Linked DNA regions of Homo sapiens: region 2 is linked to region 1. A link means that fine-mapping ties the variant in region 1 to the plasma level of a protein whose gene starts in the linked region. Region 1 holds a variant in brackets. A gene starts in the other region. All regions are shown on their forward strands. Region 1 overlaps SRGN (serglycin). Region 2 holds the start of APLP1 (amyloid beta precursor like protein 1).

The links. A credible set is the group of variants that fine-mapping cannot tell apart. PIP is the chance, under the fine-mapping model, that this variant and not a neighbour inherited with it causes the effect. Protein levels are from antibody-based Olink assays in UK Biobank. Linkage for the fine-mapping came from a reference panel and not from the study's own genotypes, which makes the PIPs less certain.
Region 2: APLP1 starts here. The variant in region 1 is the best candidate, but not a certain one, in a credible set for the plasma level of the APLP1 protein (UK Biobank, PIP 0.56).

What each region holds. Positions count from the first base shown.
Region 1 is chr10:69,096,488-69,104,974 of GRCh38, forward strand. SRGN (serglycin) reads left to right here. Exons shown (of 3, transcript NM_002727.4): 2 at 597-744; 3 at 7,384-8,318. The coding sequence ends at 7,633. Among named protein-coding and RNA genes, the nearest start is that of SRGN, 13 kb to the left of the region's middle. The variant A/C (reference allele first, on the strand shown) is at 4,999.
Region 2 is chr19:35,866,502-35,869,985 of GRCh38, forward strand. It overlaps APLP1 (amyloid beta precursor like protein 1), which reads left to right and starts at 2,073. Exons shown (of 17, transcript NM_001024807.3): 1 at 2,073-2,282; 2 at 3,166-3,309. The coding sequence starts at 2,136. KIRREL2 (kirre like nephrin family adhesion molecule 2) reads left to right here. Exons shown (of 15, transcript NM_199180.4): 15 at 1-635. It overlaps LOC107985317 (a long non-coding RNA gene), which reads right to left and starts at 2,856. Exons shown (of 4, transcript XR_001753932.2): 1 at 2,591-2,856; 2 at 1,374-1,629; 3 at 1-92. RefSeq lists silencers at 1,894-2,153, 2,244-2,313.

The sequences.
Region 1 (8,487 bases):
CAGACCTGGGACTTCACTCCAGGCAGCTGATTCCAAAGCCTATTCTAACTTTAAACTGCTACTTTTTGGAGTGTTGTAAGAAGGACAATTTATATAAAATGTTGGCACATAGTGGGTGCTGCTGTTATATGAATGGGCACAAAATCTGTCTACATTTTGCCTTTTACCAAATTTAGAATCTATTTAGTTAAAACCTTCTTAGGGCGGGTGGGGTGCAGTTGCTCATTCCTGTAATCTCAGCACACTGGGAGGCCAAGGCAGGAGGACTGCTTGAGCCCAGGTGTTTGAGACCAGCCTGGGCACATAGTGAGACCCCCATCTCTCCAAAAAACAAACAAACAAACAAAAACAAAACAAAACTAGCTGGGCGTTGTGGTGCCCCTGTATTCCCAGCTACTCAAGAGGCTGGGGTGGGAGAATGGCTTGAGCCCAGGAGTTCAAGGTTGCAGTGAGCTATGATCACAGTACTGCACTCCAGCTTGGGCAGCCGACTGAGACCCTGTCTCGAAAAAAAAATAAAAATAAAAACTTCTTAGGACAGAGTGATTAGAAGCTGTGTAGTAGATACTTAGTAACAATGTGGGTTCCTCGGGCAGGTTATCCTACGCGGAGAGCCAGGTACCAATGGGTGCGCTGCAATCCAGACAGTAATTCTGCAAACTGCCTTGAAGAAAAAGGACCAATGTTCGAACTACTTCCAGGTGAATCCAACAAGATCCCCCGTCTGAGGACTGACCTTTTTCCGTAAGTGGACTTTTCTCTAATTAATTAATTAATTACTTATTTATTTGAGACGGAGTTTCACTTTTCTTGCCCAGGCTGGAGTGCAATGGCGCAATCTTAGCTCACTGCAACCTCCGCCTCCTGGGTTCAAGCGATTCTCCTGCTTCAGCCTCTGGAGCAGCTGGGATTTCAGGCGCCTGCCACCATGCCCAGCTAATTTTTTTTTTTTTTTTTGAGACGGAGTCTCAGTCTGTCGCTCAGGCTGGAGTGCAGTGGCGCAATCTCGGCTCACTGCAAGCTCCACCTCCTGGGTTCACGCCATTCTCCCGCCTCAGCCTCCCGAGTAGCTGGGACTACAGGCACCCGCCACCACGCCCGGCTAATTTTTTTGTATTTTTAGTAGAGACGGGGTTTCACCTTATTAGCCAGGATGGTCTCGATCTCCTGACCTAGTGATCCGCCCGCCTTGACCTCCCAAAATGCTGGGATTACAGGCGTGAGCCACTGCGCCTGGCCTAATTTTTTGTATTATTAGTAGAGACGGGCTTTCATCATCTTGGCCAGGCTGGTCTCAAACTCCTGACCTCAGGTGATCCACCCACCTTGGCCTCCCAAAGTGTTGGGATTACAAGCATGAGCCACTGTACCCGGCCTTTTCTCTAATTTTAAAGTGTCTGTAATTTCACAACCTCTTGGCACAGATGTGGGAGTGTTTTTCTTCAAGCTGTCCAGAGTGTTTTGCTTCGAGCTCTTGCTTTGGTAGTTTGGCTCTTACTCTGCAGTACATGGTAAAAGTGTACTGTATATACTGGCATATGACATGTGCGAGTATACATGATTCACCTATGTTTTTGAAATTTTTTTTGTGGATGGTAGAGAGGAGCATTGAGGACTTTTCATCAACAGGTATTGAAAATGATTGAACATTGTTTTATTTGTGTAAACAGAACACACTATATATAAAAATCCAATAATTAACTGAATGGATAAGCAAAATGTGGTATAAGCATACAAAGGAATATTATTGGGTCATAAAAAGAATGAAGTACTGATACATGCTACAACATAGATAAACCTTGGAAACATTATGCAGAGTGAAGGAAGGCCAGACACCAAAAGCCACATATTGTATGATTCCATTTAGATGAAATGTCCAGAATAGGCAAATCCCTAGAGGCAGAAAGTAGATTAGTGGGTTACAGGGGCTGGGGAAAGGGAGGAATAAGGAGTGACTGCTAATGGGTATGAGGGTTTTTTTTGGAGGAGGTGATTAAAATGTTCTTCTGCCAGGTGTGGTGGCTCATGCCTGTAATCCCAGCACTTTGGGAGGCCGAGGCGGGAGGATTGTTTGAGCCCAGGAGTTTGAGGCCAGCCTGGGCAACATAGTGAGACCCTATCTCTATTTCAAATACATTTTTTATATTAAAAAAATGTTCTTCAAGTAGTTGGTAATTATTTTTAAAAATGGCCAGGTGCAGAGGCTCATGCCTGTAATCCCAGCACCTTGGGAGGCTGAGGTGGGAGGATCCCTTGAGCCCAGGAGGTTTGGGACCAGCCTGGGCCATACAGCAAGACCCTGTCTCTACAAAAAATACAAAAATTAGCTAGGCATAGTGATGTGCACCTGTGGTCCCAGCTACTCGGGAGGCTGAGGTAGGAGAATCTCTTGAGCCTATGTTGAGCCTGCAGTGAACCCTATTTATGCCATTGCACTCCAGCCTAGGCAACAGAGTAAGACTCTGTCTCAAAAAAAGAAAAAAAAAATTAGGGAAAGGAAGAATAATTAGCCAAGACTTGTAAAACAAAAATCAAATCTCTTCTTTTGATCACATAAAACTTGCTTTAAACTTGCAAAAAAGACCTGATATAAATTCATAAGTAACAAAAAATTGAATTATATTAGAAACCATTAATTCAATGAATACTAAAGCTATGTAGGATGTAGCAAAATATACATATTAAGAAAAGGATTATCATAAAAGTTTTAATCTCCAGGCTCAAACCTAGAAAATCACTCTCCTCAAAGCCAGGGTTAATCATCATGCTCCAAACCAGGTACATTTCACATCACTTTGGGATCCTGGCAACTTTCTCTTTTGTTTTTTTTTTTTTTTGAGACAGGGTCTCCTCTGTCACCCAGGATGGAGTGCAGTGGTGTGATCATAGCTCACTGCAGCCTCGAACTCCTCAAGTGATCTTCCTGCCTCAGCCTCCCAAGTAGCGGGACCACAGGCACACAGCACCATGCCCATCTAATTAAAAAAATTTTTTTTTGTAGAGACAGGGGTCTCTGTACATTTCCCAGGCTGGTCATGTACTCCTAAACTCAAGCAGTCCTCCCACCTCAGCCTCCCAAAGTGCCGGAATTACAGTCATGAGCCACCATTCCCAGCGCTGGTGACTTTCTCCATCACTGGTGACTTTCTCCATCACTGGTATTCACTGCATTAGTGATGACATCATTACAATCTTCAATATGCAACTTTGTAGTCCTACTCTTGCATTCTTACTTTAAAGCCTCAGCATTAAGTTTGAATGTAATATTACAGCATCCTTCATTACTTTAAATCATTGGTTTCAATAGTAATTCATTTAAATCTAAAATGTTAGGCTGCAGTGGCTCATGCCTGTAATCCCCCCAGTTTGGGAGACTGAGGTGGGAGAATCACTTGAGGCCAAGAATTTGAGACCAGCCTGGGCAACACGGCAAGACCCCATCTCTAAAAATTAGTGGCCCGGCGCTGTGCCTCACGCCTGTAATCCCAACACTTTGGGAGGCCGAGGCGGATAGCTTGAGGTCAGGAGTTCAAGATCAGCCTGGCCAACATGGCGGAAACCCATTTCTACTAAAAATACAAAAATTAGCTGGGCATGGTGGCACGCCTGTAATCCCAGCTATTGAGAGGCCGAGGCAGGCAGACTGGGAGGCCAAGGCAGGCAGATTGCTTTGAGACCTGCCTGGGTAACATGGAGAAATCCTGTCTCTACAGAAAAATACAAAAATTAGCCAAGCATGGAGAAACCTCGTCTCTATAGAAAGACACAAAAACTAGCCATGCATGCCTGTGGTCCAGCTACTCGAAAGGCTGAGGTGGGAGGATTGCTTGATCCTGAGAGGTCAAGGCTGAAGTGAGCCATGGTGTGGCACTGCACTCCAGCCAGGGTGACAGACTAAAACCTTGTCTCAAAATAAATAAACACATTTAAAATAAATAAATACAATTAAAACTAAAATTAAAAAATAAAATAAAATGTTAAGAGAATAGCTCAAATTCTCCAAAAGAACTCTTGCACACCATTCCTCCTCTTCTCAAATCTCTATTTTCCTTCCCCAAAGCCAGTAACTGCTTCTCACCCTGACCCTGTGCTTTCTTTCCCGTCATTGCGAAAGAATGGTCCTTGCTTCTGTGCTGATCCCAAACCCTTTTGCCCTCAGATCCTCCTGTCCTTCCCTGGCCCTGCTCTGTATTGGCTGTGGGGTGGGGGTGGCGGTGGAACTGACCCCTGGCGTCTGCATTTCTCAGGCTCCCAGGGCTGTGGCTGACTTTGGCCAATGGGAGGCAAGGACGGGAGACTGAGAGCTTGGGAGGAAGGGAGAGAGGTATGTTTCTTCTCCTTACTCCCTGCCTGGGATGGCACCTTGGGCAGGACTCTGTTTTGCCCATGGCCTCAGCTCCCACCAGATGCCTCTAGTCCCTGGGCTCAGGAAATAGACAACCTCCTTCCACTATCGCTGTAGCCCAAGGAGGGAAGTATTTTTTTCTTTCTTTCTTTCTTTTTTTTTTTTTTTTTACAGAGTCTCACTCTTGTTGCCCAGGCTGGAGTGCAGTGGTGCGATCTCAGCTCACTGCCACCTCTGCCTCCCGGGTTCAAGTGATTCTCCTGCCTCAGCCTCCAGGGTGTGCCACTATGCCCAGCTAATTTTTGTATTTTTGGTAGAGACGGGGTTTTGCCATGTTGACCAGGCTGGTCTTGAACTTCTGACCCCAAATGATCTGCCTGCCTCGTCCTCCCAAAGTGCTGGGATTACAGGCATGAGCCACTGTGCCTGGCCGAAGGAAATATTTTCTTGCTATTGCTAATCTCTGGGTTACCTCGCTATCCCCCATTTAGCTTCACTTCTCCTCCATCACCTGTATGAGGAATTCCCTCTGTGTTAAATATCTGGAGAAGTTTCCTGATTGGACCCTGGCTGTTGCAGCTTCCAAGGCCACCTCTCTTTGTGGCTGGTATCCTTTTCCCATGCATCTTCTCCAGGACTTCCATTCTGCAGTT[A/C]TCTCTCTGAACTCAGTGTCTTCTTCCCATCAGTATAGGGGTGGACTTTAGTATCTCCTATGTTTAGGCAACATCTCTCCTTTGACTCTGCGTCTTCTCCAGTGGTTGCCCTTCTCTGCTCCTCTTCACAATAACACCTCCTGAAAGGGCCACCCATGCCTGCCCCCTCCTTTCCTCACCCCCTCTGTGGCTGGACTTCTGTTCCTACACTCCACCCTGGTTGACAAAGTCACTGATTACTTCTCTATTTTCAGCTTACTTGATCCTTAATTGCCTTCAAAAACAGCTAACTGGGCCATGCATGTAATCCCAGCACTTCGGGAGGCCAAGGCAGGAGGATCACTTGAGCCCAGGAGTTCAGGACCAGCCTGCCTGGGCAACATAGTGAGACCCTATCTACAAAAAATAGAAAAATTAGCCGGGCGTTGTGACTCATGCTTGTGGTCCCAGCTACAAAGGAAGCTGAGGTGGGAGGATGGCTTGAGTCCGGGAGGGTGAGGCTGCAGTGAGCCATGATCACGCCACTGCACTCCAGCCTGCACAACAGAAGGAGGCCCTTTCTGTAAAAAAAAAAATGGTTGACCACTCCTTCCTTGAAATGCTTTTTTCTTGAGGCTTCCATGCCCTGCCTTATCCTGTTTCTTCCTACTTCTCTGGTTGTGCTTTTTCCTCTGCTCAGTATTTAACATGTTGGTGTGACCCTGGCTCTGGCCTGGGCCCCCTTCTCTATCTACATGCTTTCTCTCGACGACCTCCATCGGTTGCATGGGTTTAACTACCAAATCTGTGATTCTAGCTCCGACACCCCAGGCTAAAGTAGCCACCTGGTCACTCCCTATTACATTGGTCAATTTCATTTCTCTGTGCCACCTATGATTTTCCTGATTTATTTATTCACTTTTCATTGTCTGTCTTCCCCACTAAAATAAAAACTTCTTGAGAAGGGGCTTCATCGATCTGCCTCTGTTCTATCCCAGGCCCTCAAAACAAGGACCAGATATTCAACAAATATTTATTGAATGCGTACATGAATTAAAACTCTAATTGGTTGTATGCTGGTGGTTTATTATTTTCATGGAGGAAATGACTTGTAGGCTGTGACACTCAGCTTTTGTCTCTGATGCTTTGTTGCCCTGTTCTGTCACCGAGGGCTGTCGTCATTGCTCTGGCCATTTTGTGCTCTTTGAATTTCTAATCATCACACTCAACCCAGAAGGCAGCCTTACCTTTCAGCACTCTTCAGCTGAATGAGTGCAAGTTGGAGGCAGGGTCATTTTTTGATAGGAAATTGAATGTTTATATGCTGGTAAATATAAAGCTTAGCTTTTTACAAAGAATTTCTCAAAAGTGAGCTTTGTTGAAGCCCTGTAAATTGTTAGAACTTTTATGGAAATTTTAATTTAGGAAAAAATGTCATCTGTTTGGGCTGACTTAGTTGTTAGTTGTTTGTCCTTTCTTTTTTTTGGTGGAGGGTATGGAGTTTTGCTCTTGTAACCCAGGCTGGAGTGCAGTGGCGCGATCTCGGCTCACTGCAACCTCCGCCTCCTGGGTTCAAGCGATTCTCTCACCTCAGCCTTCCGAGTAGCTGGGATTACAGGCATGCACCACCACACTTGGCTAATTTTTGTATTTTAAGTAGAGACCGGGTTTCACTATGTTGGTCAGGCTGGTTTCGAACTCCTGACCTCAAGTGATCACCCACCTTGGCCTCCCAAAGTGCTTGGATTACAGACATGAGCCACCACACCCGGCCAAGAGGACTTCTTTTAAAAATGATTTCTTGGGCCGGGTGCAGTGGCTCACACCTGTAATCCCAGCACTTTGGGAGGTGGGTGGTTCACAAGGTCAGGAGTTTGAGATCAGCCTGGCCAATATGGTGAAACTCCATCTCTACTAAAAATACAAAAATTAGCCAGGCATGGTGGCGCACCCCTGTTGTCCCAGCTACTCGGGAGGCTGAGGCAGGAGAATCACTTGAACCTGGGAGGTGGAGGTTGCAGTGAGCCGAGATGGCACCACTGCACTCCAGCCTGGGCAACAGAGCAAGACTCTGCCTCCAAAAATAAAAATTAAAATGATTTCTTAAGTAAATTTCAAATATAGAATGTATATGCTAGTGATAACAAAATTAACACTGTTTATGCAAGTCTGCAATAGGTAGATGTGAAGTTGATAGGTGCAATAAGTATAGGCAAACACATAGGAACATTTGACCTGTTTTTTTGTTGATTTTAAAACATTGAATAATTGGGAAGCTTTTAAATCTCTTAATTTGAGCAACTAGATGGCTGTATTTATCTCCTTATATTAAAAAAACTATTATAATTATCTTTCCCACATATCAAACTCCACTGGTTTTTTTCCCATTTTTCTTTCATACTTCAGAAAGACGAGAATCCAGGACTTGAATCGTATCTTCCCACTTTCTGAGGACTACTCTGGATCAGGCTTCGGCTCCGGCTCCGGCTCTGGATCAGGATCTGGGAGTGGCTTCCTAACGGAAATGGAACAGGATTACCAACTAGTAGACGAAAGTGATGCTTTCCATGACAACCTTAGGTCTCTTGACAGGAATCTGCCCTCAGACAGCCAGGACTTGGGTCAACATGGATTAGAAGAGGATTTTATGTTATAAAAGAGGATTTTCCCACCTTGACACCAGGCAATGTAGTTAGCATATTTTATGTACCATGGTTATATGATTAATCTTGGGACAAAGAATTTTATAGAAATTTTTAAACATCTGAAAAAGAAGCTTAAGTTTTATCATCCTTTTTTTTCTCATGAATTCTTAAAGGATTATGCTTTAATGCTGTTATCTATTTTATTGTTCTTGAAAATACCTGCATTTTTTGGTATCATGTTCAACCAACATCATTATGAAATTAATTAGATTCCCATGGCCATAAAATGGCTTTAAAGAATATATATATATTTTTAAAGTAGCTTGAGAAGCAAATTGGCAGGTAATATTTCATACCTAAATTAAGACTCTGACTTGGATTGTGAATTATAATGATATGCCCCTTTTCTTATAAAAACAAAAAAAAAAATAATGAAACACAGTGAATTTGTAGAGTGGGGGTATTTGACATATTTTACAGGGTGGAGTGTACTATATACTATTACCTTTGAATGTGTTTGCAGAGCTAGTGGATGTGTTTGTCTACAAGTATGATTGCTGTTACATAACACCCCAAATTAACTCCCAAATTAAAACACAGTTGTGCTGTCAATACCTCATACTGCTTTACCTTTTTTTCCTGGATATCTGTGTATTTTCAAATGTTACTATATATTAAAGCAGAAATATAACCAAAGGTTAAGCTGTCTCGGATCTGTTGTTCTAAACCCAGGAAACAGTTATTTTTGGCCAGACGTTTCTCCAGAAGTCTTATCAACAAAACAACTTTAAACGTATTCTACAGTAAACACAAGTTTTGTAACCAGAATCAAATCATACTAACTAGCAAATGAAGAAAGCAATGA
Region 2 (3,484 bases), not on the chromosome of region 1:
AATGGAAGAGTCCTGGGATCTCCAACTTGCCATAATGGATTGTTCTGATTTCTGAGGAGCCAGGACAAGTTGGCGACCTTACTCCTCCAAAACTGAACACAAGGGGAGGGAAAGATCATTACATTTGTCAGGAGCATTTGTATACAGTCAGCTCAGCCAAAGGAGATGCCCCAAGTGGGAGCAACATGGCCACCCAATATGCCCACCTATTCCCCGGTGTAAAAGAGATTCAAGATGGCAGGTAGGCCCTTTGAGGAGAGATGGGGACAGGGCAGTGGGTGTTGGGAGTTTGGGGCCGGGATGGAAGTTGTTTCTAGCCACTGAAAGAAGATATTTCAAGATGACCATCTGCATTGAGAGGAAAGGTAGCATAGGATAGATGAAGATGAAGAGCATACCAGGCCCCACCCTGGCTCTCCCTGAGGGGAACTTTGCTCGGCCAATGGAAATGCAGCCAAGATGGCCATATACTCCCTAGGAACCCAAGATGGCCACCATCTTGATTTTACTTTCCTTAAAGACTCAGAAAGACTTGGACCCAAGGAGTGGGGATACAGTGAGAATTACCACTGTTGGGGCAAAATATTGGGATAAAAATATTTATGTTTAATAATAAAAAAAAGTCAAAGAGGCAAGTGTGTCTTAGGGAGTCTACTGGCATTATCACTCTCCACCAAGGAAGGGGTCCCTTAGACCTGTCCCAAGGTCCCTCCTCTACCCTAGCCTATGAGGTGGCTGTAGGAGTAAAACTGTGAGCCACCTCTCAGCCTCTTGCTACCTGCAAAGCACTCTAGGCTCTTTTTTTTTTTTTCTTGAGACAAGATCTGGCTCTATGGCCCACATTGGAGTGCAGTGGCATGATCTCAGCCCACTGCTACCTCTGCATCCTGGGCTCAAGCCATCCTTCCACCTCAGCCTCCCAAGTAGCTGGGACTACAGGTGCATGCCACCACACCCAGCTAATTTTTGTATTTGTTTGTAGACAGGGTTTCACCATGTTGGCCAGGCTGGTCTCAAACTCCTGACCTCAAGTGATCCGCCCACCTAGGCCTCCCAATGTGCTGGGATTACAGGCATGAGCCACTGTGCCCAGCCATGGGCTCTTTTAATATACATCTTCACACACACACACACACACACACACACGCACACACACACATGAGTTGCAAACAGAAAAGACACACACATAGGCATGTATGCACAGACACACGCATAGATGTCCACACAGTTGCACACAAGTGACAGGGCTGCCCCAGGGGTCCTGGGGAAGACTGAATTCTAACTCTCATTAGAGGAGACAAACAAGTGAGCCCTGAAGTGGAGCAGGGAAGGGGAGACTATGGGTAGGAAAATGGCAATCCCCTGGTCCTTACAGCAAGCGTGGAGATCCAGACCCTAATCCTGAGGTGCTGCATCCACAGTGGGCATGGTGCTGGTGCCTGCTTGGATGATCCTTAAAGAAAGGTCCTGGGGGCTTTGGTTCATGGATCCTTGAGCTAGGAGTTAAAGGTCCAGGCCCCTGGGACCCTTGGGAAGCAGAGCAAGAAGAGTGAACTCCTGGGTCTGAAGGAGAATGGGCTGGGGGCTTGGTCTCTGGTCCTGAGAGAGAAGGTGCCCAGACTTCTGGATCTGAAAGAGGAAGGGACTAGGTCTCAACTGCTGCCTTCTTGACTGGGGACATTTTGGAGGCCTGTATTCCTGAGCCCTCAACAGAGGAATGTACTAGGGGATGGGGGTCTCTGATGCTTGCATCCTTGGAAAAGGACAAAACTGTGAGTGTCTGGGTCTAAAGAGGGTGAGAGTCCTGCGGGAGGACTCAAAATCCACAACGGGCGGAGCCCATAGCCGGACTCCTGGCTGGGCCCTTCATGGGGCGGGACGCCTGGAATCTCGAGGGGCGGGGGCCTGGCGCAGGCTCCCGCCCGGGGTTCCCGAGCTGCTCCACTCTGCGCGAAGCCGCCACGCTATTGTCCTGACCAGGAAGGCGGGGCCGGCGCGGGGCGGGGCTGGCGGCGCCGGCGCAGCCCGGGGGCGGCGGGAGGAGGAGGTGGCGGCGGTGGCGCTGGGAGCTCCTGTCACCGCTGGGGCCGGGCCGGGCGGGAGTGCAGGGGACGTGAGGGCGCAAGGGCCGGGACATGGGGCCCGCCAGCCCCGCTGCTCGCGGTCTAAGTCGCCGCCCGGGCCAGCCGCCGCTGCCGCTGCTGCTGCCACTATTGCTGCTGCTTCTGCGCGCGCAGCCCGCCATCGGGAGCCTGGCCGGTGGGAGCCCCGGCGCGGCCGAGGTGAGGCCGGGCCGGGTCCTGGGGGATGGGGGAAGGGGCGGGACCGGGTCTCTGGACGCCGGCGCGGACATGTCCAGGGCAGAAAGCGCGGTCTTTCCAGCCAGGTGGTCAGCCCCCAGGCGCCCCCAATCACATTTATGAACCCAGGGTTCCAGGCCCCAGCTCCCCCATCATGCGACGTCCCAGCCCCCTCCCATCTCGAGCATAGGAACTGGTCTATTCAGAGCCCCTGGTCCCAGAAGTCCAGCCCCCTCTCCAGACCCAGGTGACTCGGCCCCAACCCCCTCCCGCCTGGACATAGGACCCACCAAGCAGCGAGGCATTTAGATCCAATAATCCAGACCCCTTGTATTCTCTGGACCCATATGGAGGCCCTTGCAGCCTCCCAGGACCCAGGAGTCCAGTCCTTCAGTCACCACCCACCCCAACCAGATGTAGCTCTCCAGTCCTCAAGGACCTGGTGTCCAGGACTGTAGGCCCCTGAAGCCAGGCCTTGTCAGCTTTGCATCCTGCAACGGGAGCCTGAGCAAGGGATGGAGGGAGGAGGGGCCAGAACTCCTGGGTTCTGGCCTCCTCCTCCGCGATTCAGGTTTAACCCCTTCGGGCTCCAGAGCGGCTGCGCTGGGGTGGGGGCGGAGTCTGTCTCCGCGGCAACAAGGCAGAAAGAATCCCGGGGGACCCAGGTCGCCATAGCAACGGGAGCGCTGGGGCGCCCCCGCCCTACGGGAGCTGTTTCCCAGGGAACGGTGCCTCCATGGAGGCGGTGTGCGGTGCTTGGGGGAGGGGGCTGGTGCTGGGGGTCTCGGTCCTAGGGAGCAAAGAACCAGGGGACCCTCATGCCAACGCCCCCCGAGCCCTCACTGTCCTTTCCACTTCCATCCAGGCCCCGGGGTCGGCCCAGGTGGCTGGACTATGCGGGCGCCTAACCCTTCACCGGGACCTGCGCACCGGCCGCTGGGAACCAGACCCACAGCGCTCTCGACGCTGTCTCCGGGACCCGCAGCGCGTGCTGGAGTACTGCAGACAGGTGGGCGGGGCCGAACGGGAGAGGCGGGGCCGCCCATAGAAAGCTAGACTTGAAAAAGGCGTGGTCCAGGGTGCTGCGCGATCTAAGGCGTGGAGGCTGGGGGGCGTGGCCAATAAAGAGGCGCAACTATGCTAGGGGCAGGGGACCTGTTTTGAGATACTAAGTCAGGAAAAGG